Homo sapiens: one gene and its partner. The protein of the gene in region 1 interacts with the protein of each later gene in a pairwise test. Each region holds a gene or a part of one and is shown in the gene's direction. Other genes may lie near its edges. The genes, in order: SRMS and SKAP2.

Region 1 (3,697 bases):
CATGGGCCCCCTCCACTAACCAACTGCCTGAGGCAGGTGGGCCGTGCCCAGCCAGGTGATGCCCATGGCCCTGTACAGCCACGACAGCCCAGCAGTGCTTCCGGGCAGCTCACCAGGCCGTCAGCTCCATGTCTGTGCAGGGGCTCAGCGAAGCCGAGTTTGGAGGCCTATGGCCCATGGCCAGGGCTGACTGTTAACCTGTGGCTGGGGCTGGCGGTCACTATGAACAGGGAACTGGAGGTCACGCCCAGCAGGGCTAACGGAGAGCCCACGGCCAACGTGAGGATGCTCAGGGCTGAGCAGGAGGATGAGGCCGGCACTGGGGGCTGAGGCAGTGCAGACCTTGAGCTGGGACTCAAAGTCCACGGGGTGGACCTTCTCCCTGAGGCGGTGGGACAGCCGGGCTCAGCCCTGCCGGCAACACGGAGGAGAGCATGTGGGGCCACTGGCTGAGGGGCCTGCAAGGTGACTGCCGCACCTGCTGTTTGCAGCTGGTACTTTAGCGGGGTCAGTCGGACCCAGGCACAGCAGCTGCTCCTCTCCCCACCCAACGAACCAGGGGCCTTCCTCATCCGGCCCAGCGAGAGCAGCCTCGGGGGCTACTCACTGTCAGGTACCTGGGGCGGCCCCTCCTGCCTCTGTCCCCCACCAGGTCAGTGGCCCTTGACCTTGGGGTGGTTGGTCTCTAGGCAGTGCTGGCTCCTGATTCACACCCGGCGCCACTGAGGGCCCAACAGCAGATATGCTGGTCACCTCCTGCACTTGCTAACTCACCCATTTATTCATTCATTCAGTCATTCACCCACTCATTCATTCAGTCACTCATTCACTTGTTCATTCATTCCTCACTAATTCACTCATTCATTCATTCATCCATTCATCTCATTCACTCGTTCATTCCTCACTCACTAATTCACTCATTCATTCATCCATTCATCCACTCATTCACTCGTTCATTCGTCACTCACTAATTCACTCATTTATTCACTGATTTGTTCACTAGCTTATTCTTTCACTCATTTGCTTATTCGTTCATTCATTCATTCACTTTTCCTTCTTTCCTTCCTTATTCCTTCATTCATTCACTGACTCATGGACTCATTCATTCTACAAGTATTTATTAAGTGCCTACTCTGTGCACACCGTCAGCAGAAAAGCTCCAACCTGGGCCGCTCTCGCTGCCCCGCCCCAGCCTGTGGCTGCCCACACTCCCTCCTCCACACAGCTCTGACCATCTCAGGGTCCCCAGCTAGGTCTGAGCCAGACCCCTTAGTGGGTTGTGGCCAGCATCCTCTGGGGTGGGAGGGTCGGGGCAGCTGGCAGCCAAGGCAGGGGTCTCCATCTCTGAACCCTTCCTAGTCCGGGCCCAGGCCAAGGTCTGCCACTACCGGGTCTCCATGGCAGCTGATGGCAGCCTCTACCTGCAGAAGGGACGGCTCTTTCCCGGCCTGGAGGAGCTGCTCACCTACTACAAGGCCAACTGGAAGCTGATCCAGAACCCCCTGCTGCAGCCCTGCATGCCCCAGGTGGGCCTGTGCCTGCCAAGCTGCCCCATGCTGGGCCCGAGGCATGGCCCTGTTCTAGGTGCTCCTCCCCACCCCGTCACAAAACCCCTGGGGCTGTCAGAGGCGCAGCTCCAGGGCCCTGCCCAGGCCTGGGAGCATCGGAGCATCCCAGCGGTTCCAGCACATTCTGCTCTCTGCGGGTGCCTCTGAGGGTTGTTGGGATTCCTGGGGTCCTAGGGGGCTGGGAGTGGGGAAAGGAGACCTGTAGCAGTGCCCAGCTCTGCAGGGGAGCAGCCAGGAGGGTGGGGCCAGTTTGGGGAAGGCACTCAAGGCTGCCCCAGGCCCCAAGGGCGGAAGGTGTGGGAGGAGAGGCAGATCACAAGATGCTGCACCTGGGCTGGAGACACTGGATCCCGGGGACTGTCCCCGATGTGAGCCACCCTGCCGAGGGCCAGGGCAGCAGTCTGGTTTCTCTGGTCTCATAATGACAGCGCGGCCAGGGGCAGTAATGAGCATGTGTAGACGGATATCCGGCTGGGGCAAAGGTGCCACTTAGGCCCCCAGAGCAATGAGCTCCCACGGGGCTGGGCCGGGCCTCCAAGCCTGGCACCCACTCCCCTTTGTCCCAGCCAGGGTGGGGTGAGTGTGTGCTGGGGACAGGGGTGCCCGCCAGAGGCCTGGTGTGGGGGGCTGTGCCTGGGACAGAGCACAGGGGCCCACGCTGACCAGCCTCCCTGCCCACCCTCCCTGCAGAAGGCCCCGAGGCAGGACGTGTGGGAGCGGCCACACTCCGAATTCGCCCTTGGGAGGAAGCTGGGTGAAGGCTACTTTGGGGAGGTGTGGGAAGGCCTGTGGCTGGGCTCCCTGCCCGTGGCGATCAAGGTCATCAAGTCAGGTGAGGCCCCGAGATCCTGCGCCACGGCCGGGCCCCGCACCTGCTGTCCAACCCTCAAGCCCCAGGGCAGTGATGTTCGTGGCGTGGGCCGGTCCTGGAGCCACACCCTCTCTCGCAGCCAACATGAAGCTCACTGACCTCGCCAAGGAGATCCAGACACTGAAGGGCCTGCGGCACGAGCGGCTCATCCGGCTGCACGCAGTGTGCTCGGGCGGGGAGCCTGTGTACATCGTCACGGAACTCATGCGCAAGGGGAACCTGCAGGCCTTCCTGGGCAGTGAGTCCCCTCCCTGCTGCCACGTGGCCCTGACGCGCCTGCGACCGCCCCTTCCCTCCTGGCGCAGAGCTGAACCTGCGGGGTTTCCGAGGTGAACCGGGCCTCTCTACCGGGAGCAGGTGGCCCCGGCTGCAGATCCCATCCCTGTCTGGTCTCCAGCCAACAGGGGGCTGGCGTCAGGTCTGGGCCAGGCCAGAGCCTTGTGGCTCCGGGGCTGGAGCTGGTGTTCGGGGGCGGTGGGGGGCGCGGTCCCATCTGGGTCACCAGCCTTGGTCTAATGTGACATAGACCCAGCCCAGCCTCTGGCTCTTCTCTGCCCTGGTCTTTGTCGGGGGCCTGGGCCGGCTGCCGGGTCACTGTGGTGAGTACAGGACCCTCGCCCTGTCTCACTTGGGGCTTCCCGTGGCCTTAGCCGGCCATGCCATCCTCGCCACGTCTTAGAGATGAGGAGGCTGAGGCATGGGGGAAGGTGACGTGGGTGGACGCTGGCCTCACCGGCCGTTGGCCCCGTGCCCTAAAAGACCCCGCGCTGTCTCCTGCAGCCCCCGAGGGCCGGGCCCTGCGTCTGCCGCCACTCCTGGGCTTTGCCTGCCAGGTGGCTGAGGGCATGAGCTACCTGGAGGAGCAGCGCGTTGTGCACCGGGACTTGGCCGCCCGGAACGTGCTCGTGGACGACGGCCTGGCCTGCAAGGTGGCTGACTTCGGCCTGGCCCGGCTGCTCAAGGTCAGCGGAGGCTCTGGGCCCCTGACCCAGAGGGGGTGGGTGAGGGGACCCCGGTCCACCTGCCCTACCAGGGGCCTTCCCTCGCCCCCAGGACGACATCTACTCCCCGAGCAGCAGCTCCAAGATCCCGGTCAAGTGGACAGCGCCTGAGGCGGCCAATTATCGTGTCTTCTCCCAGAAGTCAGACGTCTGGTCCTTCGGCGTCCTGCTGCACGAGGTTTTCACCTATGGCCAGTGTCCCTATGAAGGTGGGTCCCCAGGCAGCCAGAGGGAGGATGCAGGCTCTGCCCAGGAGT
Region 2 (3,817 bases), on another chromosome or scaffold:
AGTATGCGTGAGAGTGTGAGTTGAGCCCCTGCCTCCGAGGAAGAATTCTAAAAACCGGGCTAAGGGTCGAGCGAGGGAGGCTGACCTTTTCTTGTTATCAAATTACTGCGTTTCCCTGAATTACGGGCACTCAGGAATGGTGAAATCTACATATTAACCGAGGAACACGACCCTCAAAGGAAGGTAGAAGAAGGCTAACGCTCTTGCTAGTTTACTGTGCTTGCTAGTTTACCGTTTGCAGGGCTATTTAGAGCACAATAAGAAGCTTCAAATCTCTTCTCCAACCAGCCAGAGGAACACTTGATTCGCCCAAGACTCTTATTGCTTGCTTTTGAAATATTACCCTGGCTCTGAGCTACAAAGCCACAGATCCAGCCCCATTTGTCTAGTGAGGGCTCTGCCCCAGACCCGGCTCTCCATGCTCACTGCTCCGCCTGAGAGGAACCCTGGGGTTTAACGCTGAAGTGCGTTTCTCAGAGGGCAGAGCTGGAGCATCTCGCAGCCCTACAACTTCTTTGCGGCGCTTGGTCTGTCTTTGCGTTGCGAGATCAGGATCGGTGTGTTGCTCAGACACCGGCCGAACGCCACCGGCACGTCTAGGAGTCTCCTGTGCCTGGAAGAGGCTGGTTTCATTCGATTCTAAAAGAAACGGGTAAAGTGTAGATTTTAAGAAATAACCTAGATTTCAAAAGCTTAAAAACCAACCAAGTTTGGTTGTGGACAGTCAACAAACTAAAATTATTTCGGGAACTGCTTCCAGTTTAAAGTTTTTTTTTTTTTTTTTTTTTTTTTAAGCAAAGCAGTTTCTACTCTCTCCACATCACCTTTGAGAAATAATCACGAAAAAGTCACTGTTTATTAAATAATTTTAGTTGCTTTAAACCTTTTCTGGGAAAAGCTTAGGAATAAGTATATTAAAAAAGGCTACTCTAAAAAAAAAAAAAAAAAGACCATACCCAATCTCTGAATTTCTGGCATCCTTGAAAAATACCGATTCTTCCTACAGTCCCACACTCTTTCAAAAAAAACTTTGTCATAAAATAGTAACATGGATCAGTATTTTAAAAACATGTTTGGGGGCGTTAGAGGGCACTATGTAGAGTGTTTATTGCAGCCTTTTTTTTTTTTTTCTGAATTTTTATAAAACTGAAATGACCTTTTAAAGAAAAAAACTCTTGGGGGCAATTCATTGTTATTACTTCCAGTGATAGAAAATAGATTGTTTGTTTAAACTTGGATTGTATAATGAAAATATAAAATAGGCAATTAAATACTCATGGAAGAGGAAATCAAAGGCAAACATTGAGTGAAAATAACATTAAGCAGACTATTCCCCAGTCATTGGGCCAGTGATTCTTCCTATTGAGTCTGGTTGGAAGACGAATCAGCAGTAGGGATGTTGCTTCTTCCCTTATTCCACTTTCTTGCAAAAGTTACTGTAATGATCTCAGGGGAGCCAGTGATCTTTTCCATTTCAGCTAATATCGAAATATCCAAAGGTTGCTTGCTGTTCTGGGCACAAAATTTAAAGCTTTTAGAGCAACATGCTTCTTCATAAGTTTTGTTATTTTGAATTCACTTTAGAAGTCTGTGTCTAATTTGCACTGGTACTAGATTATGTCTCTATGTCCCCCACATCAAAATATAACTCAAAGAAAGAGAAGCTGTGACATTTGCTTTCATTTCATTTTCATACTTTTTTTTAACACATTAGTTGTTAATATAACTCAAGGAAAGGGAAGCTGTGACATTTGCTTTCATTTCATTTTGATACTTATTTTTTAATACATCAGTTGTTAATATAACTCAAGGAAAGAGAAGCTGTGACATTTGCTTTCATTTCATTTTGATACTTAAATTTTTAACACATTAGTCGTTAATAGACTTCAAACCATAAGCTATTTTTTTTAAATTATTACAGTATTCTTAATTATTTTACTTGTCATATTGACTTAGTGAAAAATTACCTGTACACATTTATTATGAATGTATAAAAGTTTAATTGGCTTTCCTCATTGGATCAAGATACTTTTGTAATCAAGAATTACAAACATTCTATCACATATACTAGGTTTTAAATGGTTAATTGTAAGTACAGTTGAAAGATTATTAGATTATTATACTACTTTGAACTATTTATACGTAATATTGTTTTGATGCTATACAAAGTAGTTAAGGAAAAAGAAAGTAAAACACAAATCCCTTCCATATGAAATAATCAATGATTTATAGCCATGCCTACTTAAACATCTTTAATGATATCCTCCATATTAGATATTTCAAAATGAGGTGTGAAATTCTGAAAATAAAATTAAAATTGCACAGTATTTCATGAATAATAAGAATGGAACTAGTATAAAAATTAAACCTGTAAGGACTTGTTGGAATTTTACACTAGAGAGACCCAGACAGCACCGTAATTTAGAAGTTTACTAAAATTAAAAAAAGAGGCTATGAGGGAATGTTACATGAAGCCACAGAAATCTTGTTTCTTGGTGACTATATTTTTATATAGTGGAAGAACTTATGTTTGTACTTCTTCCTTAAGAAATATTTCAGGTGGTAATACCAAGGCAAGAAGCAAGAGCTCACAAAACTACACAGCTGGTTATCTTTTTTATTTGAGGGTAGTCAGAATGAGTGTGTAGGTAGGAAGAAGGAGGGCTTGATTTGGGAATCTTGGCTAGAAAAGTGGATTTACTTTTTCCTTTAAAGCATTACATGTTGGATATACCTGAAAATTGATTATACTAGGGAAAACAGACCCTTGCCAGAGACATTAGCTTGTATTGACATAATAATATGAATGACATTTTCACACAGGAACTTACAAAATACTAGAAAATGATATTAACACATGCTTAAAAGCTTGGTGCTTGCTTCCATATAAAGAATTTGTTTTATGGGGCACCATAGTTTATTAAAACTTGGTGTGTGCTTCTTCCTTGTTTAATGATGCCAAACATCCAAATAGTATTTGCTGTGGTAAGCATAAGTAGAACTTACAAATTTTATTAGCTAAGTGGTGATCAGATTTGTTCAACTTAGTATTTGAAACACACTTCAACTGTTATGCTTTGGAATGATAAATAACTATAACAAATTGTACAGGTATTAACACTTATATGTAGAAACAATCATTGTCCTATTTATCTTCACAAAACCTTTATTTCTTATAATTTGTATCCTGTTTCTTATATTGCATGGTTTAGATGTTGAAACATTTGTAGCAGATATACTGAAAGGAGAAAATTTATCCAAGAAAGCAAAGGAAAAGAGAGAATCCCTTATTAAGAAGATAAAAGATGTAAAGTCTATGTAAGTCACTTACCTTTTGTTTACTGATTTCTTACATAGAAGCAGTTTTGTAACTAACATTTTAATAAGAAATCGATTATTATGGAGTTAAATTTTTCATGTTCCAGTTTAACTGATGTTAAGTATTTTTGAAGGGCAAAAAATATATTTCCACTATATAGTTTTTAAACACAGATATGCTTATCATAGTACCCTTCTTGATTATGTATTTTTCTGAGCATTCTAGCAGAGTTCAGCTGTTTATTTTGATTATCTGAGGGTATATTTGGTTTAAATGATAAGACAAAGGTGGATTGAGGACTTTAATATACAGAAAATACCTGACACTGAAGAAAGAGAATTCTTTTGTTACTACTTTAAATGAATAAATGTAATATATTTACATGTCATAAGTATTAAAGATATATCCTCATTTTACTACTGTACTTAGATCCTTAAAAATTATTTTATTTAAAATTTTTAAGCATTTTGGAATTGTCATTTCAGGACAGGAATTAGT

Evidence for each region.
Region 2: the proteins of SRMS (region 1) and SKAP2 interact in a protein complementation assay, tested with the Homo sapiens proteins (one study listed by BioGRID).

The regions. Positions count from the first base shown.
Region 1 is NC_000020.11:63,541,143-63,544,839, reverse strand, and holds part of SRMS (tyrosine-protein kinase Srms), read left to right. Parts: intron 1-491; coding exon 492-613; intron 614-1,359; coding exon 1,360-1,526; intron 1,527-2,258; coding exon 2,259-2,400; intron 2,401-2,518; coding exon 2,519-2,677; intron 2,678-3,219; coding exon 3,220-3,401; intron 3,402-3,492; coding exon 3,493-3,649; intron 3,650-3,697. UniProt on the Homo sapiens protein: Non-receptor tyrosine-protein kinase which phosphorylates DOK1 on tyrosine residues. Also phosphorylates KHDRBS1/SAM68 and VIM on tyrosine residues. Phosphorylation of KHDRBS1 is EGF-dependent. Phosphorylates OTUB1, promoting deubiquitination of RPTOR.
Region 2 is NC_000007.14:26,854,286-26,858,102, reverse strand, and holds part of SKAP2 (src kinase-associated phosphoprotein 2), read left to right. Parts: intron 1-379; exon of another isoform or gene 380-652; intron 653-3,212; coding exon 3,213-3,318; intron 3,319-3,817. UniProt on the Homo sapiens protein: May be involved in B-cell and macrophage adhesion processes. In B-cells, may act by coupling the B-cell receptor (BCR) to integrin activation. May play a role in src signaling pathway.